Linked DNA regions of Homo sapiens. The protein of the gene in region 1 purifies or fractionates together with the protein of each later gene. This does not show direct contact. Each region holds a gene or a part of one and is shown in the gene's direction. Other genes may lie near its edges.

The links.
Region 2: the proteins of SPAG9 (region 1) and HAVCR2 purify together in Homo sapiens (co-immunoprecipitation; one large-scale study listed by IntAct). This does not show direct contact.
Region 3: the proteins of SPAG9 (region 1) and GAPVD1 purify together in Homo sapiens (affinity purification with mass spectrometry; 2 studies listed by BioGRID, with this or other methods). This does not show direct contact.
Region 4: the proteins of SPAG9 (region 1) and NCAPH purify together in Homo sapiens (affinity purification with mass spectrometry; 2 studies listed by BioGRID and IntAct, with this or other methods). This does not show direct contact.
Region 5: the proteins of SPAG9 (region 1) and RNH1 fractionate together in Homo sapiens (co-fractionation; one large-scale study listed by BioGRID). This does not show direct contact.
Region 6: the proteins of SPAG9 (region 1) and PPP2R2A fractionate together in Homo sapiens (co-fractionation; one large-scale study listed by BioGRID). This does not show direct contact.
Region 7: the proteins of SPAG9 (region 1) and PPP4R3A purify together in Homo sapiens (affinity purification with mass spectrometry, with the first as the bait; one large-scale study listed by BioGRID). This does not show direct contact.

Annotation. Positions count from the first base shown.
Region 1 is NC_000017.11:50,984,686-50,988,927, reverse strand, and holds part of SPAG9 (C-Jun-amino-terminal kinase-interacting protein 4), read left to right. Parts: intron 1-1,690; coding exon 1,691-1,816; intron 1,817-3,149; coding exon 3,150-3,230; intron 3,231-3,937; coding exon 3,938-4,005; intron 4,006-4,242. UniProt on the Homo sapiens protein: The JNK-interacting protein (JIP) group of scaffold proteins selectively mediates JNK signaling by aggregating specific components of the MAPK cascade to form a functional JNK signaling module.
Region 2 is NC_000005.10:157,088,256-157,092,353, reverse strand, and holds part of HAVCR2 (hepatitis A virus cellular receptor 2 precursor), read left to right. Parts: intron 1-3,376; coding exon 3,377-3,413; intron 3,414-4,098. UniProt on the Homo sapiens protein: Cell surface receptor implicated in modulating innate and adaptive immune responses. Generally accepted to have an inhibiting function.
Region 3 is NC_000009.12:125,267,930-125,272,171, forward strand, and holds part of GAPVD1 (GTPase-activating protein and VPS9 domain-containing protein 1), read left to right. Parts: intron 1-1,006; 5' UTR 1,007-1,055; intron 1,056-4,242. UniProt on the Homo sapiens protein: Acts both as a GTPase-activating protein (GAP) and a guanine nucleotide exchange factor (GEF), and participates in various processes such as endocytosis, insulin receptor internalization or LC2A4/GLUT4 trafficking.
Region 4 is NC_000002.12:96,355,896-96,360,137, forward strand, and holds part of NCAPH (condensin complex subunit 2), read left to right. Parts: intron 1-3,149; coding exon 3,150-3,298; intron 3,299-4,242. UniProt on the Homo sapiens protein: Regulatory subunit of the condensin complex, a complex required for conversion of interphase chromatin into mitotic-like condense chromosomes.
Region 5 is NC_000011.10:496,691-500,932, reverse strand, and holds part of RNH1 (ribonuclease inhibitor), read left to right. Parts: intron 1-278; coding exon 279-449; intron 450-933; coding exon 934-1,104; intron 1,105-1,747; coding exon 1,748-1,918; intron 1,919-1,999; coding exon 2,000-2,170; intron 2,171-2,305; coding exon 2,306-2,476; intron 2,477-2,791; coding exon 2,792-2,962; intron 2,963-4,242. UniProt on the Homo sapiens protein: Ribonuclease inhibitor which inhibits RNASE1, RNASE2 and angiogenin (ANG). May play a role in redox homeostasis. Required to inhibit the cytotoxic tRNA ribonuclease activity of ANG in the cytoplasm in absence of stress.
Region 6 is NC_000008.11:26,297,655-26,301,896, forward strand, and holds part of PPP2R2A (serine/threonine-protein phosphatase 2A 55 kDa regulatory subunit B alpha isoform), read left to right. Parts: intron 1-4,242. UniProt on the Homo sapiens protein: Substrate-recognition subunit of protein phosphatase 2A (PP2A) that plays a key role in cell cycle by controlling mitosis entry and exit. Involved in chromosome clustering during late mitosis by mediating dephosphorylation of MKI67.
Region 7 is NC_000014.9:91,461,342-91,465,583, reverse strand, and holds part of PPP4R3A (serine/threonine-protein phosphatase 4 regulatory subunit 3A), read left to right. Parts: intron 1-164; coding exon 165-334; intron 335-2,706; coding exon 2,707-2,849; intron 2,850-3,344; coding exon 3,345-3,535; intron 3,536-3,976; coding exon 3,977-4,203; intron 4,204-4,242. UniProt on the Homo sapiens protein: Regulatory subunit of serine/threonine-protein phosphatase 4. May regulate the activity of PPP4C at centrosomal microtubule organizing centers.

The DNA of each region.
Region 1 (4,242 bases):
CAAGTTTCCCACATGGGTGTGGATGACCTTTTTGAATTTAGTTTTCATGCAAATATTTTATTAAAAAACAACTCAGATAGTTCCAGTGGCTCATGCCTATAATCCCAGCACTTTGGGAGTCTGAGCAGGAGGATTGCTTGAGTCCAGGAGTTCAAGACCAACCTGAGCAACATAGTGAGACCCTCATCTCTACAAAAAACTTAATGATTCGCTGGGCGTGGTAGCGTGCACCTATGGTCCCAGCTACTCAGGAGGCTGAGGTGGGAGGATTGCTTGAGCCCTGGGAGCTGGAGGCTACAGTGGGCCATGATATCACCACTGCACTGCCGCCTGGGAAACAGAACAAGACTCTGTCTCAGAAAACAAACAAACCAAAGAAAACTGTTTGTTTTAGGCTCCTCCGTTAAAGGGTTGGTTAATCTAGGCCCATTTAGTGAATTATTTTATTTTCTTTCCTGCCTTTTCTAGATCCCCTCTAGATGAGAGTCTCTTTAAACTAGATCCTTTTTAAAGTTTAATATTCTTAGTGTATAAAGTAAGAAAGATTAATTAATAACCCATTTATGCCTAGTGGTCCATTATTGGAATGCTAAGCTTGTGGGAGTTATTCATATCCTACTGCTCAAGGTCATCGCTAAGGTCTGATTTTTTACAAAAAAAATTTGCAACCTCCGGCATAAATGGGTTAATATTTAATTCTTTTTTTTTTTTGGAGATGGAATCTCACCCTGTCACCCAGGCTGGAGTGCAGCAGTGCAATCTCAGCTCACTGCAACCTCCGCCTTCCAGGTTCAAGCGATTCTCCTGCCTCAGCCTCCCAGGTAGCTGGGATTGAAGGCATGTGCTGCCACACCCAGCTAATTTTTGTATTTTTAGTAGAGATGGGGTTTTATCATGTTGGCTAGGCTGGTCTTGAACTCCTGGCCTCAAGAAATCCACCCACCTCACCCTCCCAAAGTGCTGGGATTATAGGCGTGAGCCACCGCACCTGGCCTGAATTATTAATTTAAGAATAAGTCATGTTTGAATTTGATAGCCTGGTTATATATCTTTTACTAAATATGCCCTGACAATTCAAAGGAAAGGTTTTGTGATAGAATATTAAACATATTTCAGTTTATTAATTTATTTTAGGTCATTCTTTATATTTCTCCCTACTATTTGTATGTGTGTATCCCTCCCTTCTCTCTCACTTGAGAAGAAACTATGACAAAACCCAAAATAAGAGACAGCCATAGTAATTGTCTGAATATTAACTGCTGTATTTCATTACCATGTCTTATTATCTTTTCTGCTCCTTGGGCTTCCTAGTTTGTTAATGTTATTTCTGGTACAATTGTTGAAATATGTGATGTAAGCTTTTGACTTTGGCTTTTCTGGAATTTTGGTGGTTTCTTTTTTTTTTTTTGACTAAAAGTTGAAGCCAGGTGTGATAGTGTGTGTGCCTCTAGTCCCTGTTATTCAGGAGGCTGAAGTGGAAAGATCACTTGAGCCTGAGAGGTCAAGGCTGCAGTGAGCCCTGATTGTGCCACTGTACTCCAGCCTGGGTGACAGAGTGATACCCTATCTCTAAAAAATAAATAAATAATAAACAAATGAACAAACTTAAATATAGAAGGATTCAGTCCCTGAAAACTATAACGATAGTTAAGTATACTCAGATTTCTTTCCTTTTGCCCTCCCTTTCCAGCAATGACTCAGATGCATATAAAGATCAAATATCAGTACTGCCAAATGAACAAGACTTGGTGAGAGAAGAAGCCCAGAAAATGAGTAGTCTTTTACCAACTATGTGGCTTGGAGCTCAAAATGGCTGGTAGGTGTCAATGCTTTTAACATTAGAATATGTTGTTTTACTTTTGCTTTTGAAATCAGAAGATAAGTAAAATATGGTAAACAAATACAAAAAGTGTGGATTAATGCAAAGAATTTTATATATACACACAATTTGATGTTATGTTGCAACTACCACATAAACTGGACTTGCACTGGTTCTGAATAGTAAGCCATATGTTTCTTTGTCACAGAATGTTCCCTTTCTATAATATTCTTGGAAGAAGAGGTATGTAAAATTTTAAAATCGAGGTGCTCCAGAAATAGAAGATCCTGAACAGCACAAAGACAGAGAATATTTAATTTATGTAGGCTAGAATGTGGGCAGGAAAACAGGGATTAAACCAACATTTTGGCTGCAGGAAGGCCCAATCCCAACTTTTAGTGAATTTTTTACTAAGATAGGTAAAACAAATCACAATCTGCAAAGTCAGATGATGATGACTAATATTATATGGTTTGTTCACTTTCCGGTTGTGTGGAGAGTTTTACAAAATTGTGCATTTACAAAGGTTAAGCAAGATTACTGTTGAGCATCTCTAATCCAAAATTTAAAACTCTTTGACCACTGTTATGATGCTGGCAGGTAATGCTCATTGGAGCATTTTGGATTTTTGAATTAGGAATACTCAACTGTTATGTATGATGTAAACATTCTAAAATCTGAAAAAGTCAGAAATCCCAAGCATTTCAAATAAGGGTTACTCAACCTGTAGTATGTCTTTTTCATATGAGTCCAATACTATAAAGTGAAGAGTTGGCAAACTTAGTGTAACTCTCTTCCAGTAGAGCATTATGGGCATTGTAGTTTGAATTTCATATAAATCTCCCCTGTCGTAAAATACCCTTGATTTCCCCCCCACACACACTTTTAAAAATGTAAAAAGTATTCTTAGCTTGCAGGCTGGATTAAAACAGGTGGCAGACTGGATCTGGCCTGTAGGCCATAGTTTGCCACTCCCTATGTGGGCCACTCTGTCATCCAAAAGTTATAGATCAGTGTAGTAGAGAGGTAAGGCAATTCAAAAAAAGAGTTTTGCCCAAGGACTAAGTGTGTGAACCTGACTGTGCATTGCACTAGTTCTTGCTTTTCAGTCTTCATATGTTTTTCTTTGCTCAGCAGCCTATTTCTTTACCTTAGGCCTACCCTCACTCTCATTTTTCTTTTCTGACCATTGCACAAAAGCAGCAGCACCTTTTCCTAAAATTTGTATGTTACTCTTCTTTCCTTCTGAATGAACTTCGCGATCATTGTTAGATATATGCAATGTCTTGATGTTCTCTATGCCTTACCAGTGTTGACTTTGTTCTTACAGTTTGTATGTCCATTCATCTGTAGCCCAGTGGAGGAAATGTCTCCATTCCATTAAACTTAAAGATTCGATTCTCAGTATTGTGTAAGTTTTATTTTGGAAATTCTTCTTGTTAAAACTATGCATTTTGGTATAAACTAGATTTTAAGACTTTGAAAGCTAATACATGTTTCACGACTAAATTAGTATCCAATTTGTTTGTTTTTTTAACCCTTTTTATGGAACTAGAGAAGTTAAGTGAGAATGAAACTGTATAATAGAAAACGAAGTAGAAAGGATAACTTGCTTGATTGAGTCCTCACCATACTGCGATTTATTTAGCACTGCAGGAAATAACCAATACCTATTAAGTTATGTTTATTTTAGAATATTCTTTATGGCTTGTAAATATGTTGATTGGGGCATTGATTACTAGTTCTTTTCTATGTGTTCACTGTAAAAAAATCAGACAGTTTATCTCTGAGCCTACAGGGCTGACTCTGTTGGTTCCACTCAAGGTGCATGTCTCTGGTCTTTAGAGTTTGTGTTGATTGTCTGTGATGAGAGGAGAACCTTGGGCCAGAAAGTGAAATAACTGAGATACCATTCATACTGTTTATTTAGTTCAGCTGACATTTTTTCATAGCAGGACATCCACAGTGAAGAAAGTGGTGTGTTCATTTATATTCAGGTGTCAGCTCCTTAACTCATCACAGATTGGCCCTTTGTGAGGCCTTGAACTAGTTCAGTAGCATGTGGTCCCTTCTGTATTCCTGAATGGAGAGTTCTGAACTCCCCTTTCCTGTTTGCAGACACGTGAAGGGAATCGTGTTAGTAGCCCTGGCTGACGGCACCCTTGCAATCTTTCACAGAGGAGTGGGTGAGTGGTGATGTGTGTATAACATGGACACTAATTTGTTGCTTTGCAAAGCATTTTTAAGTAGATTGGTTTATGTTTTAAAGAAATGATACTCAGTTTAAAGAATAAATACTAACAATACACAACATCAGTAAATATATTAGTGCGTGCATGGAGGTATACATTAACAGATACCTTAGGGAAAATGTGTTTACCACAATGGGCATTTTATGGTGCTTTTATTTTATTTTATTTTTT
Region 2 (4,098 bases), on another chromosome or scaffold:
AAATGTTGGGATTATAGGCATGAGTCATTGCACTTAGCCTCACTTGAGTATTTCCAAAACAGACTAGGGATTGTTAAGGAGCACTGATAACACTCACTACTTTTTTGACTTCTGCCATGGCTCAAAGTAAAACTTTGAGCTTTACTATTATATATATTAGAGACCACTTTATATATATATGTGTGTGTGTATATATATATATATATATATATATAATATGACCATAATTTATACATATTAGCACTTATTCTAGTTTGTATAAAGAGTGATGGGATCTAGAGGAAATCTGATGCTTTGTACACACACATATATGCCACTCCAAAAAAACATGGCTACTGAGAAGTACAGATAAGAAAGGCCTGTTTCATTTCCAATCTTTTCCCTGGAAGTTGCTGGAGAAAATATTAAAATCAAGGTGACAGCTTTTTAAGTCATGACCTCACAAAAACAAACTGACACTCAATAATGCCCCACAATCTTCCATCTTTCTAGTGTACTCTCTGAGATGACCATCCATACCTCACTGCTGCTCAAAACTTCTTTGCCCCTCTCCTAACTGATGAAATATGAAAGGGCTTTTTAATCTCCATTGCCTAGGCCAAGACTTCATCCTTCTTTTTATCCCTTTCTTCTGAGTCATCTCTCTCCTTTTCTGTTTATGCTATTTTCATTAGCAGAATATATGTTCTAGTCCATGCATTCCTCTCCAGCTAGTCCCATTTCTCAACTCGTTCTCACAGCCATATTTTTCAAAGGAGTTGTCTCTACTTTTCACCCATCTACACTCCTTGACCCACCATCATCTAGTTTCTGCTCCAAAGCACAACGGAAATGGTCAAGCTCACCACTGACCTTCAGTTTTCTAAATTAAATATTAACAGATACCTTTATCTTTTTTTTTTTTTTTGAGACAGAGTTTCACTCTTGTTGCTTAGGCTGGAGTGCAATGGTGCAATCTTGGCTCACTGCAACCTCTGCCTCCCCGGGTTCAAGTGATTCTCCCCCCTCAGCCTCCTGAGTAGCTGGGATTTCATGCATGTGCCGCCATGCCTGGCTAATTTTGTATTTTTAGTAGAGACGGGGGTTTCACCATGTTGGCCAGGCTGGTCTCAAACTCTTGACCTCAGATGATCTGCCCGCCTTGGCCTCCCAAAGTGCTGGGATTATAGGCGTGAGCCACCGTTCCCAGCCTGATACCTTTATCTTTATTATAGTCAACCTTTTAAATTGATCACTCATTCTAGAAAGTCCTCCTTCTCTTGGCTTCTGAAATGACATTCTTCTCTTTGATCCATTGCTTTTCAGATCTTCTTCTGCCTGATCCTTAGATGTTGAGATTCCTTAGGGCTGGGTATGGTGGTGCACGCCTATCGTCCCAGCTACTCAGGAGAATGAAGCAGGAAGATCACTTGAGCCCAGGAGTTTGAGGCTATGAACTATGATCTTGCTGCTGCATTCTAGCCTGGGTGACACAGCACAGGGAGACCCTGTCTCAGAGAAAAACAACAACAGAAGATTCCTGCAGTCTTCCTCCAACATACATCTAAAGTGTTTTCATTATTCTGCATCTCTTTTGGCCATTCCTTACTCCAAGACACCATTATTTCTACTTAATTTATCTTCTCATTTCTTTATTCCTCCTTCGAATCCAATATTAAAACCCAAATCAATGTCTGAGCACAATGGCTCATGCCTATAATCCTAACACTTCGGGAGGCCAAGACAGGAGAGTCACTTGAGGCCAGGAGTTTGAGACTAGCCTGGGCAACATATTGAGATTCACCCAGGCTGGAGTGCAGTGGTGTGATCATGGCTCACTGCAACCTCTACCTCCCGAGTTCAAGCAACTCTCCTGCCTCAGCCTCCAAGTAGCTAGGACCACGGGCATGTGCCAGCATACCTGGCTAGTTTTTGTATTTTTAGTAGAGATGAGGTTTTACCATGTTGCCCAGGCTGGTCTCGAACTCCCAAGCTCAAGAAATCCACCTGCCTTGCCTCCCAAAGTGCTAGGATTACAGGCGTGAGCCACTGCATCCAGCCCAAAAACATTAAAAAAAATTATCCAGCTGTGGTAGTGTGCACCTATAGTTCTAGCTACTCAGAAGCTGAGATGGGTAGATCCCTTGAGCCCAGGAGTTCAAAGTTGCAATCAGATATGATCTTACTACTGCATTCCAGCCTGGCCAACAGAGCAAGACCCTGTCTCAAAAAAAAAAAAAAAAAAAAAAAAAGAAAAGAAAAGAAAGGAAAATTTTAAGTTTCAAATTTTTGAAACTGCATCCCCAGAAGACACCTTGAAAGACCTTGATCCAGAGGTACCCAGTAAGCCACACCTGGATTCCTGACCCACAACACAGAAATGATGAGATAACGTAGTTGTTTTCAGCGGGTAAAAGAAACCCAAAACAAATAAGGATCACATCTCTGCCCTTCAAGGAAATCTAAGGTTTCCTACAGGTCTTAGAATAAAATCCAGACTCCTGATTATGGCTGGAAAGGTCTTATTGGACCTAGCCCCAGCCTACCTTTCAGACCTTATCTTGGGCCGCTCCCTTAATCCAGCCACGTTTTCAGTTTCAGGTACTCAGCAAGATCTTTACAAGGGGCTCCCTCATCCTGGAATGCTCCTTCTGGCTCTTTACTTGGCTGACTCATTTCAGAAACGAGCTTAAAGTTCATCTCTGAGGGTCCTTCCCTGACCACCCTCTCTATTATCTGTTTCACTATGATGTTGGTTTCCTTTATAATACATCATAATTTGAAATTATTTTGTTTTCCTATTTACTATTTCCTTTTTGTTGTTGTTTTTTTTTTTTTGAGACGGAGTTTCGCTCTCGTTGCCCAGGCTGGAGTGCAATGGCGCAATCTTGGCTCACCGCAACCTCCGTCTCCCGGGTTCATGTGATTCTCCTGCCTCAGCCTCCCGAGTAGCTGGGATTACAGGCATGGGCCACCACATCCAGCTAATTTTGTATTTTTAGTAGAGACGGGGTTTCTCCATGTTGGTCAGGCTGGTCTTGGGTCTGGGGTACTGTTTTCTTTTATTTCTTTGGTCTCCCACAGGAGAGCGTGAGCTTCGTGAAATTAGGGCTCACAATTCACTTTTATGTTCCTGTGTTCCTTGTGCCAGGCAAACTGCCAGACACATAGTAGAGGTCTCATAATATTTGTTAAATAAGAAAAATGCATCTTTATTATTATTTTCTAACACAGTCCATATAACTATCTAAGGCACACGTTGAGAGTTTCATTTAACTCAATCTGAGATGAGACCAGATTTCCCTAAACTATGCGTGCTTCCAGTGAACCTATTTGATTTCTTGTCTCATTTATTTTATGAATGCATTTTTATTGGCTTTTGTTTCCCCCTTACTAGGGTATTCTCATAGCAAAGAGAAGATACAGAATTTAAGGTAAGAATAATGGAATGGGGTTGGGAAAAGGTGAGAATCTTGGAAGTCCCTACTCTAACATGTCTGATCTTTTCTCTGAGAAATCCTGTCCTGGGGCTTTGAGATCTGAGTTTATACTTCCTTCTTTCTCTAGGTCTAGTTATGAAGTGAAAATGTAACATGCTACTGTGTGTACTTCCTGACACCTCTAGCTTCTTTAGTTCTAAAGTTAAGGTATAGAATTTATCACCCTAATAATACAACATGCTTATTCATCTCGATATTAATGGTTTTTCCACTGAACTGAAACATCAACGGATTGAGCTCCTATTATATCCAGGGTCTGGGCTGCACTTAGGCGTTACAGAAGTGAGCAAGAAACCCAGTATCTGTTCTCAGCATTTCTGTAAACAGCCCAGGCATTTTCAACTTTAGTTTCCTATTAGAATCACCCAGGCACTGAAGTGTACTAATGCAGGGCCAACCCCAGAGCAACTGAATCAGAATCTCTGGGGATGAAGCCTAAGCATAGAAATTGTTCTAAAAGCTCTCCAGGTGATTCTAGTGAACAGTCAGGGCTGAGAACTGCTAGTCTGTTATAGACTCCTGTCTTGACCTTCGTTCCTGATTATACACACCCACACATCCATTTCAAATAGGTATGGCTTACATAACTTACTAGATTTTAGACTTTTAGTGATGTTTG
Region 3 (4,242 bases), on another chromosome or scaffold:
AGGCGGGTGGATCACCTGAGGTCAGGAGTTTGAGACCAGCCTGGCCGACATGATGAAATCCCATCTCTACTAAAAATACAAAAAATTAGCTGGGCGTGGTGGCTCGCGCCTGTAATCCCAGCTACTCAGGAGGCTGAGGCAGGAGAATCGCTTGAACCCAGGAGGCTGGGGTTGTAGTGAGCCGAGATCACGCCACTGCACTCCAGCTTGAGCAACAAGAACAAAACTCTGTCTCAAAAAAAAACAACAACAAACAAACAAACAACCCCCCCCCCCAAAAAAAAACCAAGAACTTTATTCTACTGGTGCTTTCTTAGCCACCGTCACAATGTTGTCACTTCTCACTTTACGCAGCTGGCTCCACTGAGGGTTTGTGAGCTGGTCTCCAGTGATGGCACATAGTTCTTATTACCTTACATGGTAACACTACCTGATCATGGCGTTCTGGAAATTGTGACAATATGTACTGATCTTTTGTTGGTGCAACTAACAATACAAAAGTTGCTGCTCTGTAAATGTATGCTTCAGTTTCATTAGTTTATTTGGAATAATTACCCCTAACATTGTTTTTTTTTTTTTTTTTTTTTCGAGACAAGGTCTTGGTCTGTCATGCAGGCTGGAGTGCAGTAACGCTATCACAGCTCACTGCAGCCTCCACCTCCCTGTCTCAAGAGATTCCCCTGCCTCAGCCTTCTGAGTAGCTGGGACCACAGGCACATGACACCATGCTTGGCTAACTTGTATTTTGTATTTTATTTTTGTTTGACCAGACGAGTTTTAAATACAAGTTTTGTAGTTTTTGTAGAGGTGCCCACACTGGTCTCAAACTCCTGAGTTCAAGTAGTTCATCTGCCTCGGCCTCCCAAAGTACTGGGATTACAGGCATGAACCACTGCGCCCAGCTACTTGTAATGTTTGTAGGTAGTTTAATAGCGAAAGTAGGTACATTCCAGTGATAAGACATTCAGTTTATTATTTTTTCCTTTTTCCTTTTTTTTTTCTTTAGGGGTAAGTGTACTGGAGAGAGTTGGTTATACATTCTAGGAATCTCAAAGGTAAAGTATGATTTAAAAATATTTTTTTAAAATAATTTTTTTAAGTTTGCCTACAGCTACAAATTTTTAAGTTTTATGTAAGTGGAATCCTTTTTTTTTGAGACATATTCTCACTCTGTCATCAGAGTGCAGTGGTGCCATCATAGCTCACTGAAGCCTCAAACTCCTGGCCTGAACAGGGCGATCCTCCTGCCTCAGCCTCCTGAGTAGCTGGGAATACAGGAGCATGCTACTTTGCCCAGCTGAGTCCTTCTTATTTGCTTTGGACAGACTAGTACTTGAAAAAATAATTTTCAAATGTTTAGTTGAGTGTTTTTTTTTCCTTCAACTTTTGGGAGGCTGTTTTTTTGTCATACATATTTCCTTCTCTGGAGTTAATTTTCTGTTAAGCAAGAAGGATTTCAGTTATGTATTTTTTACACTTGAACTACCTAAACTTGTGCTTGCATAGAATTATTTTCAACTTTAACTCCTTAAGTAATCGTTTTCAGGATATTTTAGTTTTTGTTCTTGTTTTTTTTTTGAGTTGGAGTCTCGTTCTGTCGCCCAGGCTGGAGTGCAGCCTCCCGAGTAGCTGGGATTACAGGTGCTACCATGCCCTGCTCATTTTTTATATTTTTAGTAGAGACAAGGTTTCACCATGTTGGCTAGGCTGGTCTTGAACTCGTGACCTCTGGTGATCCACCCGCTGTGCTGGGATTACAGGCATGAGCTACCATGCCTGGCTTTTTTTTTTTTTTTTTTTTTTTTGGAGGCAGAGTCTCACTCTGTTGCCCAGGCTGGAGTACAGTGGCATGATCTCTGCTTACTGCAACCTCTGCCTTCCAGGTTCAAGTGATTCTCCTGCCTCAGCCTCCCTGGTAGCTGGGATTACAGGTGGCTGCCACCATGTCCAGCTAATTTTTTTTATTTTTAGTAGAGACGGGGTTTTACCATGTTGGCCAGGCTGGTCTTGAACTCCTACTCTCAAGTGATCTGCCCGCCTTGGCCTCTGGAAGTGCTGGGATAGGTGCAAGCCACCATGCTTGGGCAGATGTTTTAATTTGTAAAGGAACTAGGACCAATAATTTTTTTTACTGTATACACATTTTAGAATAAGTTTTAGGCACCTAGCTGTTTGATTTCTGGTAACTAAGATTATAGTCAGTTAAACTTTACTGCTGGCCAGGCATGGTGGCTCATGCCTGTAATCCTAGCACTTTGGGAGGCCGAGGTGGGCGAATCACTTGAGGTCAGGAGTTTGAGTCCAGCCTGGCCAACATGGAGAAACCCCGTCTCTACTAAAAATACAAAAATTAGCTGGGTGTGGTGGCGCACACCTGTAGTCCCAGCTACTTGGGAGGCTGAGGCAGGAGAATTGCTTGAACCTGGGAGGCAGAGTTTGCAGTGAGCTGAGATTGTGCCCCTGCACTCCAGCCTGGGTGACAGAGCTAGAGTCTGTCTCAAAAAAACAAAAACAAAAGAATCTTTCCTTCTTTATGCTTACCTATATTTTCTAACTTTTCTGGATATGTTTCAATATGTATTATGATTTTGTAAAAAATTTCAGAAGGGTGGTTATTTTTTGTTTCAAAGCTGAAACCCAGTTTAAAACTCTAATACAGTGGTCAGAGGAAGTGGTGAATATCTTGATACTTCAGTTTCTAATATTTAATATATATATAAGTGAATGGTTGAGGCCGGGCGCAGTGGCTCACGCCTGTAATCCCAGCACTTTGGGAGGCTGAGGCGGGTGGATCACCTGAGGTCAGGAGTTTGAGACCAGCGTGACCAACATGGAGAAACCCCGTTTCTGGTAAAAGTACAAAATTAGCCAGGTGTAGTGGCACATGCCTGTAATCCCAGCTACTCAGGAGGCTGAGGCAGGAGAATCGCTTGAACCTGGGAGTGGGAGGCAGAGGTTGCGATGAGCCGAGATCGTGCCATTGCACTCCAGCCTGGGCAACAAGAGCGAAACTCCATCTCAAAAAATAAAAAAGAATGGTTGAGTGAAGGACTTAACAGACTACATAGGGGTTTCTATAAATTTTTTTTTTTGAGTTTGAAGATGAACCAGATACCTGATAAATGCTTGTGTCTGAAAGAAAAGTATAAAAGTATAATTTAATTCTAATACTCTTTGTGTGTGTGTGTGGCCAAAATTATGTTTTTGTATACCTTTTTTTGTAAGCCATTTAAAAAATACAGGCTTTAAACATACTCTTGGAAGTGTATAAACAGATACTGTGTCTGCTTGTTAATCTAAGATGTCTGTCCGAAAAGGTGCTTGCTTGGTCTTGCTCCCTTATAATGCCGGTACACCCACGCTGGAGACTAGTAGAAAGCATGTTGTCAGACGTGTTTAGTTCTTTTTTTTTTCCTTACCAACTTATGTGTTGTTATTTATTTTCTGTGAATCTTTGGAAGGATTAAACCCACGTGGTTTTTCTATCAGAAAAAAGACAAAACAAAATTAGTCAAGGCATATTAGTCTTTTTCCTTTTTCCTAGGATCAGAGTGTAGTAATATCCTGCCAATCTTAATTTTAACAAATACTTATATTTTTCGGACTTAGATTAACTTATTTTTTTATTTTTTATTTTTTGAGACAGACTCTTGCTCTCTTGCCCAGGCTGGAGTCCAGTGACCTGATCTTGGCTCACTGCAACCTCTGCCTCCCGGGTTCAAGCGATTCTCCTGCCTCAGCCTCCCGAGTAGCTGGGATTACAGGCACCCACCACCACACCTGGCTAATTTTTGTATTTTTAGTAGAGACGTTGTTTCACCGTGTTAGCCGTGCTAGTCTTGAACTCCTGACCTCAAGTGATCCACCTGCCTCGAGTGCTGGGCTTACCCACCGCACCTGGCCCTCCTTTCACTTTCTAATGCAGAATTCTAATCTATCCCTTTGTTTTACTTGTGTTATTTATATTTACTTACTTCCATTATCTTGGCTACTTTACAAAAATGCATTAGGTCTAAAAGTTATAACATTTAAGGCTGAATTGCCAAATGTTTAAAAATATAGATTTCTGTACCAGAAAAACTTTGGAAAAACTACATTAATTCTTTTTTTTTGAGATGGAGTTTCACTCTGTCTCCCAGGCTGAAGTGCAGTGGCATGATCTCGGCTCACTTCAACCTCTGCTGCCTGAGTTCAAGCGATTCTCCTGCCTCAGCCACCTGAGTAGCTGGGATTACAGGCGCC
Region 4 (4,242 bases), on another chromosome or scaffold:
AGTGCTGGGATTACAGGCGTGAGCCACTGCGCCTGGCCATCCTGTCTTCTAAGAAGGGAGAAATGATAGGTTGATGGGATGAACTCTTAAAAACATCATTTTCAAATGTCAGAGAAAAGCTATCACTTTCCTTAAACAGTGAGGTGACATCTGAGGGACTGACAATAACAAAGGGCTTCCATGACTTTTATTTGGTTTCTGGAAGATGTTTTCTGCTGGTTATTTTGAACAAATGTCTCCACTTCTCTCCCCTATTCCAAACAGCACAAAATCTTAGACTCTATCCTACCTAGTACATTAGGCGTGGGAGGCTGCAGTTCTAGTCTCAGATTTTACCCATCCTTAAATCCCCTCCCCTTGCCACATCGCTGGCCTTTCCTGGGAATTCAGTGAGTGTTTGATCTGGAGTAGATCTGATCTTGCCGTTACTAGCCCTGAGATGTGGGGCAATGTTATCACCTTTTGCGGTCTTTGTTTTCTCATCCATAAAATGCAAGGTTGGGACCAGTTGATAATAACAATATCTGATATTTATTGAGCTCCTTATTCTTTGTGCAAGATGCTGCGCCAGGTGCCTTATGTGTGTTATTTCACATAATTTACATAATATCTAAAATTAATTATTTTATTGCAGCAACCCTATAATTAGGTCCTATTATCCTCATTTTACAGATGAGGAAACAGGCTCAGAGAGTTTAATGGGGTGGAGCTGGTTGCCACCCAGCACCTTTGACCAGTCCTGGCCACATATAGTGAGCTTTGGATGGCAGGCTCCAGTCCACACCACCTGAGCATCTCAGTGGGTAGAGGGGGCCAGACATCACGTTACCATCCCCGGGTGATTGTGTTCTGCACCCAGGGCTGAAAACCACTGTACTCTACTGAGAGGTCTTCGGAGGCCTCTGGATGAAGGTGGGGTGGGGCAATGCTGAGTGATAAATACCAGTGTTGTGTAGATGCCTCACGTTATTGGTCTCTGCATGGCAGCACATTGACAACTGCAAGCGTAAAAGGTGGAGCTCTTTGTGCACATGCATTGGTAAGGACTGGTCTGCAAAAGTGCTTGATGTCTAAGAGTGAGCTCCCTCTCTGTGCAGCAGCAACAGCAGCCCAAGAACACTTGGAGCCAAGTGTTCTCTGGCCGACCCTTCTGTAGTACCAGCATGCTTACATAAGGCAGTTACTGTGGTTAATGACCTAGTCGGAGGTCAAAGCCCAGAACACAGCCTACTTCACGCATGCGAGAATGAAACATTCGGCTGCATGCTGCCTGATGTGCTGAGCCAGCTGGGAGGAGACCTTATCTTGCCAGTGTTAGGACAGTGGATTGAACCATGGCTAAATTGAAGGAGGGACCCTGTGATATTATGGGGAGGGGATAGAAGAAATACAGAGTTTTCCTGGAGGGACTGGAGATGTTTGAAGTGGGCAGCCTTGAAAAATGGATAGACTATTTTGGACTATAGGTGGATTCATTTAGTTGTTGAGTGGTGAAATTGGGACTGGTAGGATGCCTGCGACATAGCATTGTATGTTGAAAGAATTATTGAATTACTACAGTTCAAAAATCCTGCAGAGCCTCTGTCCAGCTCCATCACCAGAATTGGGAATGGGAGCCACTCTTCCTAATGGAAGAATATCCATCAGAATGGAGTGGGGATGCTGTTGAAACTTCTTCCTTCTACCTCTGGAGTTCACAGCACAGTGCATTTGTTACTTAATAACATGCTAGGTATCAGATTCTGTTACAGCACTAGGCCATACAGACTAGAAATGTGATTTTTTTATTGTGTATTTTATTTTTTTAAATTAGGTTTTAATTACACAATAAATGCACAAATGTAGTCTCCTGTTTTTGTTTTTTAAAATTCTGTATGTAAAGACAAAATCCCCTTTTAAAAGCCTTTTTAGCTTATTCCATATGGCTTATATAAACGGGAACTATATGTAGGCTCAATACAAATACAAGGCCACTCTTCTGAAACTTCTTGGTTACCTTACCTTCAGAGGGCAGTACAGCAGCACCAGCGTCCTTTCTGACATGTTGGAGCCCTTTAGGAGAAAGCTTGTACCTTGTGGAAAGAGTGAAAAATGGCTGGGCACGGTATAATCCTGACACGCCTGTAATCCTAGCACTTTGGGAGGCTGAGGCAGGAGGATTGCTTGAGGCTAGGAGTTCAAGACCAACCTGACCAACATAGTGAGACCCCATCTCTATTTTTTAAAAATGTAGAAAGAGTGAAAAACCAAACTGAAACTGCCATGCTGCACTGACCACTTAGACACTTTACACACGGCAAAGAATAAAGCTGGATGACCTAACAGATTATAAGGGGAGCCCCCAAAGCGTTAGAGGAACTAAATAATTAGACAAACATGTTTTTTCACTTTTAGTAGGAACTATAGCGGTATCTTTTGGAGCCCTCATTTACAGAAGGATGGTGACGAATGAGGGATTTGTCATCTTGTGTGGCAAGAAGCATGTGTGTGGAAAGACCCCGAGGCTGGGATTAAGGGACTTGTGTCCAGCTCCCAGCTCCGGCATTTTACTAGCTGTAGATTCTTACCCAAAGGAATTCTCTTTTTTTTTTGAGACGGAGTCTCACTCTGTCACCCAGGCTGGAGTGCAGTGGCGCGATCTCGGCTCACTGCAAGCTCCACCTCCTGGGTTCACGCCATTCTCCTGCCTCAGCCTCCGGAGTAGCTGGGACTACAGGCGCCCGCCACCACGCCCGGCTAATTTTTTGTATTTTTAGTAGAGACGGCGTTTCACTGTGTTAGCCAGGGTGGTCTCGATCTCCTGACCTTGTGATCCGCCCGCCTTGGCCTCCCAAAGTGCTGGGATTACAAGCGTGAGCCACCGCGCCCAGCCAAAAGAATTCTCTTTACTTTTGTCATCTTGTCTCTCAAATTAGGTAGACTAGCATTTTATGGTGCACTTTGAAACTTCCAGAGTACTTGTATAGATATGATTATATTGTTATAAAATTAAGGGAAGGAAAAGTACTTGAGAAGTAAAAGGAATTATTAATAATGAAGTTATTTGTATTGGACTCACAGAAATGCAGCTCATTTGCGGACATATGCTTCATATGTAAATACAGCATTATAATATATGTATTGTACATGTACAAATATGTGTGTTACAGGGAAGAAATGATTTCCCTTGGGGATGGAGACATCAGGACCATGTGCCCCCTTCTGTCTATGAAACCTGGAGAATATTCTTATTTCAGTCCTCGGACCATGTCGATGTGGGCTGGCCCGGATCACTGGCGCTTTAGGCCTCGACGCAAACGTATGTAATTCTAGGTGGAATTTTAAGAAAAGAAGTAGTGTAGATGACCAGCCAGTCAGCAGTTAGCCAAGGAAAAGAAATGCCAGTCACAGCCCTGTTGTGTCTCTTAATAAGCCGAGGAAGCATACAGATGAGCCAGCCTCCTGGTTGGTCAGTTTGCCTGGCCTGGGATGAAGGGACAGTGAAAATGGAAGCCTCTGAGTGAGGAGAGTGAGTACTGGAGTCAGGAGAACTGGACTCCCAGCCTCACACTGCTCCCTAGTATCCACATGACTTCACTCAGTGGTCACGGGTGGGCATGACCCCCGGGCACTAGAGGGCACACAGGAGCTACTGCACATGTTGGCATTCTGTAGAACTCCAAAGGGCTGTGCTGACCTTATGTGTTTTGCATTGTCTCTTTGAAAGAAAGGGATAAGCATCTGTTGTTTTATGTTTTGTTTTGCTTTTGAGACAGGGTCTCACACTGTCACCCAGGCTGAAGTGCAGTGGTGAATCATGGCTTACTGCAGCCTTGACCTCCTGGGCTTAAGCGTCCTCCCACCTCAGCCTTCTGAATAGCTGGGACTGCAAGGGCATGCCAGCATGCTCAGTTAATTTTTAAATTTTCCATAGTGATGGGATCCCGCTTTGTTGCCTAGGCTGGTCTCGACTCCTGGCCTCAAGTGATCCTCCTGCCTTAGCCTCCCAAAGTGTTGGGATTACAGGCATGAGCCACTGCACCTGGCCAAGCATATGTTTCTGATGTGTTTTCTTAGCCAAAACACAAATTATAAGTTTAGGATGAAAAGAGGGTGTGTGATTGAGCACTCCTACTGTTGTGATGCTCAGACACAATGCTGCCTTGTGGTTTTGATAAGCCTTGATAAGGCTGTCAGCAGATCTTGTGAAATGAGTAAATAGTTTAGGCCACAGAAGTGAAGTGCTGACGTCTGTGTTCACTC
Region 5 (4,242 bases), on another chromosome or scaffold:
GGTCTTGAACTCCCGACCTCAGGTGATCTGCCTGCCTCGGCCTCCCAAAGTGCTGGGATTACAGGCGTGAGCCACCGCGCCTGGCCACGTGCGAGCATCTTAAACAAAACTTTCATGGAACAGTTCCTCCTTTTTGTTTCATTTCTGAAATGTCTTGTGTGACTTGCCTTGCTGTCTTCTGGGCCCACTGATAGGTTGTAACCTGCACGTGGGGTGGTGGTGGAGGCTGAGGCCAGTGCTGTCTGCGTGGTCCACATGACCCTGGGGTCTGCTCACAGGCTGGACGACTGTGGCCTCACGGAAGCACGGTGCAAGGACATCAGCTCTGCACTTCGAGTCAACCCTGCACTGGCAGAGCTCAACCTGCGCAGCAACGAGCTGGGCGATGTCGGCGTGCATTGCGTGCTCCAGGGCCTGCAGACCCCCTCCTGCAAGATCCAGAAGCTGAGGTGAGGCGGGGCCTGGCACTGCCTCTGGCCTGGTGCAGTCTGCTTTGGTAGCCCGGCAGCAGGGGACAGAGCCGCCAGGGGCGCGTGGGCAGCTGCAGGTGGACAGGCAGTGGCAGCAGACATTTCCAACATCAGCCAGAGGCACACAGGCCTGGCGGTCTCACAGCGGGGGGGACAGGGCCCTTCCTGCCTTATCCCAGCCCCCGCACCCAAGATCTGGCCCTGCCCGCCATCCCTAGCCTTCCAGCATCACCACAGACCCCCACTGAAAGGTGTGTCTGCAGACAAGGTTTCCCTGGGTCGAGCCACATGCGTGCCCTCCTTCACTCGGCCTGGAGACCCCAGACCCCAGAGCCCCGTCCAGGGAAGGAGCAGGTATAGACCTGCCGCCTGAAGAGTGCTGCTCCGGGCTCTGGGCTCTGGCAGGCGAAGGGCGTGGCAGCTTGGCTCAGGGGAGCCCTGCTGACAGCCAGGTATGCTCCAGCCTCCAGAACTGCTGCCTGACGGGGGCCGGCTGCGGGGTCCTGTCCAGCACACTACGCACCCTGCCCACCCTGCAGGAGCTGCACCTCAGCGACAACCTCTTGGGGGATGCGGGCCTGCAGCTGCTCTGCGAAGGACTCCTGGACCCCCAGTGCCGCCTGGAAAAGCTGCAGTGAGTTTGTGTCCTGCCCCAGGGCCCATGCTGGCCGCTGCCTGTCCCCCAGCCAGCCCCCTACATAGAACATCGCCTGCCAGGAGCCGTGAGGAGGGGACTCAGGTCACAGGGGCCTTGTGGTGCTCTCCTTTCCCCATGATGCTGGGTCTGGGGCCTTGTGGTGCTCTCCTCTCCCCATGATGCTGGGGCTGGGGGGATCTGTCATCACCCTCCCTCCCCATCCAGTTGTCCTTTGCAAGGCACAGCTGCCCCAGGACCCGACGGTGGGAACAGATGCCTGGCCGTGAGTCAGGTTCCACTCACCGCCTCAGTGTGTGTGGGGGACCCGGCCATTGTGAGTTGACCACAGCCTGGGACGTGCAGGTGGCCCTGCCCTCCAGAGGCTGGTTTCTTTCTCCCGGGCCTGGTTGGGCCCCAAAGTCTGAGGTCCGGGAGGGGGTGAGGGGTTTCCAGAAGGAATGCCGGTGTCCACAGAGGCCCGGGCCTCTGGATGAGTCTGTGGGGGTCCCTCAGCACTGACACCTGATGCCCAGGCAGAAGACTGAGGGGAGATGAGACACCAGCACACCCCGTGCTCCCTGGTATCACACCCTTGGCTGGTGCACATTCCTGTGTGGTGCTGAGCTCTGCTGTCCCCCAGGCTGGAGTATTGCAGCCTCTCGGCTGCCAGCTGCGAGCCCCTGGCCTCCGTGCTCAGGGCCAAGCCGGACTTCAAGGAGCTCACGGTTAGCAACAACGACATCAATGAGGCTGGCGTCCGTGTGCTGTGCCAGGGCCTGAAGGACTCCCCCTGCCAGCTGGAGGCGCTCAAGTAGGCACTGGGCCTTGGGGGGGTGCGGGGTGTGGGCTAGGGGGGGTCCCGTGCTGCCTCACGTGTGACCCGTGTCCCCAGGCTGGAGAGCTGCGGTGTGACATCAGACAACTGCCGGGACCTGTGCGGCATTGTGGCCTCCAAGGCCTCGCTGCGGGAGCTGGCCCTGGGCAGCAACAAGCTGGGTGATGTGGGCATGGCGGAGCTGTGCCCAGGGCTGCTCCACCCCAGCTCCAGGCTCAGGACCCTGTGGTGAGTCATCTCCGCGAGGCCTCCTTCCCGGAGGGTCGGGCGGCGGGCCGTCCTCAGAGCTCTCCCCCGCCCCTGGGCTCATCTCAGGCCATGAGACGGTGCTGAGGAAAGTCTGTGGTGGTCCATGTCCTGCAGGATCTGGGAGTGTGGCATCACTGCCAAGGGCTGCGGGGATCTGTGCCGTGTCCTCAGGGCCAAGGAGAGCCTGAAGGAGCTCAGCCTGGCCGGCAACGAGCTGGGGGATGAGGGTGCCCGACTGCTGTGTGAGACCCTGCTGGAACCTGGCTGCCAGCTGGAGTCGCTGTGGTGAGTGTGGCTGTCGGGGCAGGGCCCTGTCGCCCAAGAGAGGGCCAGGGTGACCGAGGAGACCAGGGGAGGAGTGAGCGACTCCAGGGAAGCTGCTGGGCTCAGCTCCGACCTTCAGAATGCATAGGCCAGGGAGCAGCCTGTGGTTTGATGGGAACAGTGCTTGGGGCCAAGGACCAGGTGTAGGTGCCCACTTGCTGGGAGGCTGTCAGATGTTTTTGCTCAGGTCCACGTGGGGCCTTCAGGGGAAGGGCCAGTCGCAGCTGTGGGCCAGCCTGGGCCCCTGCCAGGCGTCAGTCCTGTCTGTGTCCACAGGGTGAAGTCCTGCAGCTTCACAGCCGCCTGCTGCTCCCACTTCAGCTCAGTGCTGGCCCAGAACAGGTTTCTCCTGGAGCTACAGATAAGCAACAACAGGCTGGAGGATGCGGGCGTGCGGGAGCTGTGCCAGGGCCTGGGCCAGCCTGGCTCTGTGCTGCGGGTGCTCTGGTGAGTGTGTGAGGGACACGAGTATGCACATTTGGGAGATCATATGCCCGTGTGTGCACACAAGGGCGAGAGTGCACGAGTATCTGTGTGAGCACGAGTGTCCGTGTGTATGTGAGCACACATGGGTGAGGCGAGTGTGAGCACGTGTGTGAGCATATGAGTGTGAGCATGGGTGTCCGTGAGCATGTGAGAGTGAGCACGTGTCCGTGTGAGCACGTGAGTGAGCACGAGGGTCCGTGTGTGAGCACATGGGCAAGAATGAGCACGAGTGTCCGTGTGTGAGCACATGGGTGAGCACGTGTGTGTGAGCACATGGGTGAGAGCACGAGTGTCCGTGTGTGAGCACGTGAGAGTGAGCACGAGGGTCAGTGTGTGAGCACATGGGCAAGAATGAGCACGTGTCCGTGTGTGAGCACGTGAGAGTGAGCACGAGGGTCCGTGTGTGAGCACATGGGCAAGAATGAGCACGAGTGTCCGTGTGAGTGTGAGCACATGGGCGAGAGGGAGCACGAGTGTGTGTGAGCACATGGGCGAGAGAGCATGAGTGTCCGTGTGTGAGCACATGGGTGAGAGCACGAGTGTCCGAGTGTGAGCACATGGGTGAGTGAGCATGAGTGTCCGTGTGTGAGCACGTGAGAGTGAGCACGAGGGTCCGTGTGTGAGCACATGGGCAAGAATGAGCACGAGTGTCCGTGTGTGAGCACATGGGCGAGAGTGAGCATGAGTGTCCGTGTGTGAGCACATGGGCGAGAGTACGTGAGCACATGGGTGAGAGTGAGCACGAGTGTCCGTGTGTGAGCACATGGGTGAGAGTGAGCATGAGTGTCCATGTGAGTGTGAGCACATGGGCGAGTGAGCACGTGAGTGTGGCACATGGGCGAGAGTGAGCACGAGTGTCCATGTGAGTGTGAGCACATGGGCGAGAGTGAGGGTGCATGTTCATGTACTGGGAAAGGCGGGCTGGCGGCACCACTCTGGCTTAGTTCTCATTTTAACTCTGAAAGTCAGAGGTCATGTTTCATGAAGCCTGAGAGCTTCACGGAGCTCCAGCCTACCTGGCCACCCTGTGGTCCATCTTCCTGGAAGCCCCGCCCACCTTTCTCCCTTGCGGGAACCCCGCCTGTGTCAGGATGTTTTTCCAGATTTGTTTTCTTTGTTAAAGCACGTTCTTTTGCAGCTTTCTAAGAAAAGGTTTTGCAGGAGGTAATTTTTGGGGTCTTGTGCCCCTGTTCTGTCCTTGGATCATTTAGCCGGGTATAGCATGCACCATTATGCCCGGC
Region 6 (4,242 bases), on another chromosome or scaffold:
CTCTATAAAATGAGGATAACAATAAAACCTGTCTTACAGTGTTGTTTTGATGATTAAATGAGTTTATACACATAAAACAGAACAGTACCCAGCAGAAAAGAGCCTTATGAGGATTTAGATATTATTACTTGAACCTTCATATTATTGTTACTTTGAAGGAAGAGTCTTTGGAGTATGAGTATATTGAGGATTTGTCTTTAAAGCCTACTAAAAATTTCTCAAAGTGAAGGAAATAGCATATATGTGTGTTATACATACTCTTTGATTCCACTAGTAAATTACAAAATACATTCAAAATTAAGCTATAGGTTTAGAGGCACATATGCAGCTGGTAAAACTATGAAGAAAAGCTATGAAGTAAAAGGAAAAAAACATACTGTAAAAAGTACTATAAAAGTCAGTATAGTGGCTACCCTTAAGCTGTTGGAAAGGAGTTGTGATCGGGAAGGGCTGGGGAGGCCCTTGTGGGCTATCTTGACTGGGATGGTGGTTGTACAGATGTTTGTAAAGAGTAACCTGGACATTTTTGTTTCAATTTTTGGTTTTCTTTATCTGTTACATTTTACAGTAAGAAGTTTTTGGAAATCTAATAATGTATTAAAGGGTTTAGGATGAAAAATGGCAGTCCCCTACCTCCCCACTCCTTAATCCCTAGTCCATCTCCTAAGAGCAGTTGTTCAACTCTTCCGCTGGGTTCCTTGGTGCTTCATTTCCTTTTTGGGAATAAAATGGTATTTCTATATCTTGTCAATTTTAGTATTTCCAGCTGACTTGCTCCTCTAGTAGATGATAACTAAGCTATTCACATTATCACCCCCATTTCTGTCCCCATTGTGCCCCGATGTTACATCACACACTATGATTAAATTGGACGTCAGTGCTTAAATTGTTATGACCACGCACACATTCTCTGCTGAACCAGTAGTGCTCTGCAGTGTTTATTTCATCCTCAAGGTAATACAGTAATTGCTTGTTTGTTAATTTGACTATTTGGTTTTTTAAAAAACGTAATCAATCTGGAACATTACAGAAAGTATGTGGAATAGTATAATGAACCCCTGTCACCCGGCGTTGTCAATGGCCAGTGTTGCCCCATGTATGGTTCCATCACTGGACCCTTTCCCATCCTTTTGTTATTTAATAATGTAATACTTGTTTTTAAAATCTGAATTTAACAAAATAGAAAGCCAAGTTCATTTCTTAAAGTCGAACAGTAAGAAATTTTTTCTAATGATTTTGATAATGTGTTTAAATTTTACTTGTGGAAATAAATTATTAAAAATTCAAATACATGTGGATAATCTGAAGTGTGTAATAATTGGTCAAAATAATAGAACAGGCCAGGTGCAGTGGCTCACGCCTGTAATCCCAGCACTTTGGGAGGCCAGGCGAGAGGATCTCTTGAATCCAGGAGTCTGAGACCAGCCTGGACAACATAGTGAGACCTTTTCTCTACAAAAATTAAAAATATTAGCAGGGCATGGCAGTGTGCAACTGTAGTCCCAGCTACTAAGGAGGCTGAGACTTGAGCCTGAGAGGTCTGCTACAGTTAGGCTGTGATTGTGCCACTGGTCTCCAGCCTGGACAATAGAGTAAGACTCTGTTTCAAAAAAAAAAAAGGAACAACTTAACCATTCAAGATAGTTATTTTAATTATTTTAATGTAGATTTTTCATTGTTTAGTAATCTTAAAATATCAGATGTTATTAAATATTTAATAATGAACCTCATCTGCATATTTGATAGTCTTAAACTTTCACAGGAAATTATTTTAGGATATTATCTTATAAAGTCTTATTTTATGAAACTTGGATCCAAGTACATTGTGTGTTTTCAACTCTTTGCTTTCTGTTTACTTTTGGTAGGATTTAGCCTTGTGGACTGGGTCTTGAAAAAATATTTTTTAAATGGTAGAGGCTAAAATATGCCCCAAATAAGGACATAAGTAAAAATTTGAAAAACAGTCCATATTATGATATCTCACACAATTTAATGGTTTTAGTCCATTCCATATGTTTAATGCTATAATGTAAACAATTTAAAATCATTTCTCTTCTGCATCTCTTTTTTTTTTTTTTGTTAGAGACAAGGTCTTGCTGTGTTGCCCAGGCCGTCTTCTGTGTTTCTTAGAGTAGTATGCATGTTAGATTTAGGCAGTAAGGTAAGTTAGTAGAAAAAGTAGAACCCTGTTGTTTTGTGGATTTAAAAATAGTGGCACATTAGCTGTATTCCGAAACCTAATGACCTATGGTAAAGGTCTTATTTAATATCCTTACCTTGTATGACATGTGACACTTCTTTTTCTTAACACTAGCATTACTACTGAAGTCTAGTAGACCTCACTCAGTACAGTCACTTAAAGTAGTAGTGTAAGTTTACCCATTAAATACCATGAATGATAGTATCTGTTTAGCATCAAATAGTTTTCTTGCTTTGTTTTAAAATACTAAGTTTTTTCACATTCATTTGACAAAAAATTATGAGAGAGAATGGCCATTGAAAACATATTGCTGACATTTTGTCATGTTATTAAAATAAAACAAAAATTAGCCTTAGGTGTTTCTTAGTACTCTGTAATAGTGAACAAAATATTAAAATCAAGTTCTTGAAAATTGTGGAATAAGCAGAATGATGAGAGGTTGAAGCAAAAATGTATTAAATCAGTGAAGAGGTTACAGTATGTTACGTATTTGCATATAAGTGTTTGCCTAGTTTATCTTAAAGTTGATTGTAGGAAGAAAGGTACGTTTCTTAATGCTGTTAAATAGGAAAACTGAAGGATTGGAAATAGCTAAAAAATTTTAGTTAATATCCTCAACTGTAATCTCGTTGCCCTTTAAGGTGATGATGGAATTTGTAATTAAGTAATCAAGTATCCATAAGGTGCTTCCTCAGCAGACAGAAAGAAAAGTAAAAGCTGGCGGGGCGCGGTGGCTCACGCCTGTAATCCCAGCACTTTGGGAGACGGAGGCAGGCAGATCACGAGGTCAGGAGTTTGAGACCAGCCTGGCCAATATGGTGAAACACTGTCTCTACTAAAAATACAAAAATTAGCCGGGTGTGGTGGTGCGCGCCTGTTGTCCCAGCTACTCAGGCTGAGGCAGAAGAATTGCTTGAACCTGGGAGGTGGAGGTTGCAGTGAGCCGAGATCGTGCCACTGCACTCCAGCCTGGGCAACAGAGCAAGACTCCATCTCAAAAAAGAAAAGAAAAGAAAAAGCCTAGGTGCAAATTAGATTTTCTATAAATAAACTGCTATATAGTCATTGTAAGGAAGGCATGGCATGGCCATCTTGAGTACCTACATTTTTTGAGTGCTTAACTATGTATCAGGCATTGTTTTAGGTCCTTTACATCTATTTATTTACTGTTCTTCACAAATACCCTGTGAAATAAGTAGATACTGGTGGGAAAGTTAATTAACTGTATAATCTTGAGCAGGTGGTGAAGCTGGGATTCTTACCTTAGACCTTTCACTTTTCCTAATATAATTTTATTTCAAAACTTAATCTCCTTTTAGTTCAGGTGAAGGCGTTTGATGTTGAACTGCAACTCCTGTTTATAACAAGGTTTATTTGTAATGCCTAGTAGATACTTTTTATTTTGAAGTAATTAAATATAATTTGGAGATTTGTTGAATTTTCAGCTAATGCCATTCTTTTTTTTTTCCTTTTTCTTTTTTTTGTTTTTTTTTTTTGAGACGGGGTCTTGCTCTGTCATCCTGGCTGGAGTGCAATGGCGTGATCATGGCTCACTGCAGCCTCAACCTCCCAGGCTCAAGCGATCCTCCTGCCCCAGCCTCCTGAGTAGCTGGGACTACAGGCACAGGCCACCACGCCCGGCTAGTTTTTAAAAATTTTTTTTTGTAGAGACAGATCTCACCATGTTGCCCAGGCTGGTCTGCTGATGGCGTTCGTTAGCTGAGATGTGCTATATATAGATGGGTTATAAGGGCTTTGTGAACCCTCTGATGATGTGTGTGAAATTGTGTGTGATTGTACATATGTGCATTTCTCTGGTCGGAGTCCGTAGCTGCCATCAAAATTGATATCATTTAGTCCAGTGGTTCTCTAAATGTCGTCTGGCAACCCCTGAACTCATTCCAAATGTCTGTGAAGTAAAAACTATTTTCACAGTAGTACTCAGGTGATACTTGCCTTTTTCAATACATTGACTTTGCAGCAGTGCTGCAGAAGCCATCTTAGCATGAGATCAAGACAGTAGCACAAAAGAGTACCTGTAG
Region 7 (4,242 bases), on another chromosome or scaffold:
ATAATCCTTATCTTTAGGTTCACAGTTCCGGAAGTGCAAACATCATAAATAATTATTGATATGTGTTAAACAGTTTTTTTTGGTTTGATGGTTATTTTTGTTTGGTAAGTCTAAAGTATGGAAGAGTGGTATGTGATTTAAACAACCATGCCTCTGTGTTTCAGGTGCCCTTCGTTTTAAAAGAAAGATTATTGGATTAAAAGATGAGTTTTACAACCGCTACATAATGAAAAGTTTTTTGTTTGAACCAGTAGTGAAAGCATTTCTCAACAATGGATCCCGCTACAATCTGATGAACTCTGCCATAATAGAGATGTTTGAATTTATTAGAGTGGTAGGTTCTGTATTTTTAATTAGAATTTTCATTTTAATTGTTTGAGAAAATTGAATATGCATTACCTAGTATTTTGGCTTGAGATGATAATATTTGGAGAGATTTAAAAAAAAAAAAAAGTACTAAAAGCCTGTGAGAGATTTGAGTCAAGCTACATCTTACCTCTCAGCAGCTACAAATCTGTTATAGCAGGGGTCCTCAACCCCTTGGCCGCGGACCGGTCCATAGCCTGTTAGGAACCAGGCTGCACAGCAGGAGGTAAGCTGCTGGCAAGCAGGCATTATTACTGCCTGAGCTCTACCTCCTATCAGATCAGCAGCAGCATTATATTCTCCTAGGAGCATGAACCCTTTGGTTAACTGTGAGGTGGAACAATTTCATCCTGAAACTGTGCTCCCCCACTCCCACCCCAGTTGGTGGAAAAATTGTCTTTCATGAAACCAAAAAGGTTAGGGACTGCTGCTTTGTAGGATGGTCACAGTAATCATTTTAAGAAAGCAAAACTACACTTGACAGATAAGCATTTGAATGTGTTTTTCTTAACTTACACATTTCTAAAGACCAATTTCATAATACTCTTTATTCTCTAGTAATGTAATAAGCTAGTGGTTCTCATTGATGCTGTGCAAATTTATCTGGCATGGCTTTTTGTTTTGTTTGTTTCTTAGAGACAGGGTTTTGCTATGTTGCCCAGCTGGGCTCAAACGATCCTCCCACCTTAGCCTCACAAGTAATTGAGACTGGAGGTGCATACCACAGTACCTGGATGTCGTGCTTTTTTAAAAGCTGGGATAAAATAATATAAAACATTAAACTTGCTATTTTAACCATTTTAAAGTAAACATTCACATTGTTGGCAGCCATCACCATTATTCATCTCCAGAACTTTTCTGTAACATGCTTTTTTTGGGGGGTGAGGGAGGGGGGTGGGGACAGAGTCTCACTCTGTCACCCAGGCTGAAGTGCGGTGGCATGATCTCGACTCACTGCGCCTTCCACCTCCCAGGTTCATGCGATTCTTCTGCCTCAGCCTCTAGAGTAGCTGGGATTACAGACATGCGCCACCATACCCGACTAATTTTTGTATTTGTAGTAGAGATAGGGTCTCACTATTGGCCAGGCAGGTCTCAACCTCCTGACCTCAGGTGATCTGCCCACCTTGGCCTCCCAAACTGCTGGGATTACAGGCATGAGCCTCTTCACCCGGCCTGTGACATGCTTTTAAAATACGCATGGCTGTTGTGTGTTCTCTCTTGTAAGTGGGAACTAAACTTTGAGTACACATGGAAATAAAGAAGGGAACAACAACAGATACCAGAGCCACTTGAGGGTAGAGAGTAGGAGAAGGTGGGGATTGAAAAACTACCTATTGGGTACTGTGCTTACTACCTGGGTGATGAAATAAGCTATACACCAAACCCCTGTGACACGCAGTTTACCCGTATAACAAATACGCACATGGACCCCCTGAACCTAAAATAAAAATTAATTAATAAAACATATATGTCCATGGCCAGGGATAGTGGCTTATGCCTGTAATCCCAGCACTTTGGCAGGCCAAAGTGGGAGGATTGCTTTAGGCCAGGAGTTAGAGACTAGCTTGGGCAACATATCAAGACCCCATCTCTACAAAAATTTTTTGTTAAAACTTAGCCCCGTATGGTGGTGCATGCCGATAGTCCTAGCTGCTCAGGAGGCTGAGGTGGGAGGATTGCTTGAGCCCAGGAGTTCAAGCCTGCAGTGAGCTATAATCATACCACTATATCTCAACCTAGGTGCCAGAACGAGACCCCATCTCTAAAAAATACACATACCCAGCCCGCACATCAGAATCAGAATCACCTAGGGCAAGACCTGGGCATTTACTTTGTAAAGACCCATAGATAGCTGGGTGCAGTGGCTCGCACCTGTAATCCCAGCACTTTGGGAGGCCGAGGCAGGCAGATCACCTGAGGTCGGGAGTTCGAGACCAGCCTGACCAACACGGAGACACCCCATCTCTACTAAAAATACAAAATTAGCCAGGCGTGGTGGTGCATGCATGTAATCCCAGCTACTCTGGAGGCTGAGCCAGGAGAATCGCTTAAATCCAGGAGGCAGAGGTTGCAGTGAGCCGAGATCATGCCATTGCACTCCAGCCTGGGCAGTAAGAGCAAAACTCCATCTCAAAAAAAAAAGACCCATAGATAAATTGGGGACTACTATAGTAGCCAGTGTACGTTATTCCCATTTTTTATTGTTTGGTTATCTCTAAGATTATGTAGTTTTATTAAATTAAGCTATTTTTGGTGGGTATGAATTGATTAAATTAAGCCTCATCTTGCTAAAATGACATTTTCCTATCATTTTTTCATTACTATTCTTTTCTGTAGGAAGATATAAAATCATTAACTGCTCATGTAATTGAAAATTACTGGAAAGCACTGGAAGATGTAGATTATGTACAGACATTTAAAGGATTAAAACTGAGATTTGAACAACAAAGAGAAAGGCAAGATAATCCCAAACTTGACAGGTAAATTACCATATATTTAAACCTATTCGTTCAGCATCAAGTCGTATGGTAGTGGCTTTATTGTTTATTTGATATTATTTGGCTTGACAAGGAACAGGGAAATCAGCAGATAGCAAATAGAAATTGTAGCTTCCTGTAAGGGTCAACATAAATGTTTCCCTGAAGATTAGGCTGGTTATTAGTATAATACCTCAGGCATGTATCAGGCTAGATAAGGGAAAAAAAAAAAAAAAGACCAAACAGTGGAAGTGAGGCTTCATGTGTTCCAAATAAAATCAGAGGATTATATTACTTGCTTTGAATTTACAAGTTACTAAGGTTACAAATTATTATTTAAAATTTTGTACATTAATCTAAATACCTGGATTTACATTGATACTTTAATATTTGTAAATTTCATGTTAATTCCCTATGTTAACAAGTTTAATAAGTCATCTGTAACAGTACAATTAAGTCCATATATGATTGTATTTACTCTTTCTTCCCTACTCATAGTATGCGTTCCATTTTGAGGAATCACAGATATCGAAGAGATGCCAGAACACTAGAAGATGAAGAAGAGATGTGGTTTAACACAGATGAAGATGACATGGAAGATGGAGAAGCTGTAGTGTCTCCATCTGACAAAACTAAAAATGATGATGATATTATGGATCCAATAAGTAAATTCATGGAAAGGAAGAAATGTATGTTGGAAAAAAATGGGCAAGAGAAAATTAAGGCTTTCTTACTCTAGATTTATTCTTATTTCTTGACAAAATGATTATTTGCTTGGAAGGTGTGATGGCATACGGTTTAAAGACTCTATTGCTTTATGGGATGTGACTGAATAGCAGTGTTGTGTAGGCATAAACTTAAGTTTTCTTAATTTGAGTTGAATAAGGAATATACTATTTCAGGAAGGGTAGGGATACTAAATATGATTCTGAAGGTTTCAATTCTTCTCTGGGGTAAGATCCAATGAATGGAATTGTGGTTAGTATTTTGGTAAGCTTCTTTTATAAATTGAACTTCAATGTTTCTACCCAGCGTAGTAAGCTAGTTAAATGTGTTTTAGTGTTACCTCATTTGGGGAAATTTAAAAAAGAAGTATGGGGGACGACTATTGACAGTATTCTCATTTTTAGTAAAAGAAAGTGAGGAAAAGGAAGTGCTTCTGAAAACAAACCTTTCTGGACGGCAGAGCCCAAGTTTCAAGCTTTCCCTGTCCAGTGGAACGAAGACTAACCTCACCAGCCAGTCATCTACAACAAATCTGCCTGGTTCTCCGGGATCACCTGGATCCCCAGGATCTCCAGGCTCTCCTGGATCCGTACCTAAAAATACATCTCAGACGGCAGCTATTACTACAAAGGTACATTCTTGACTCCCATTTTGCCCCCTTTTTTCCCAA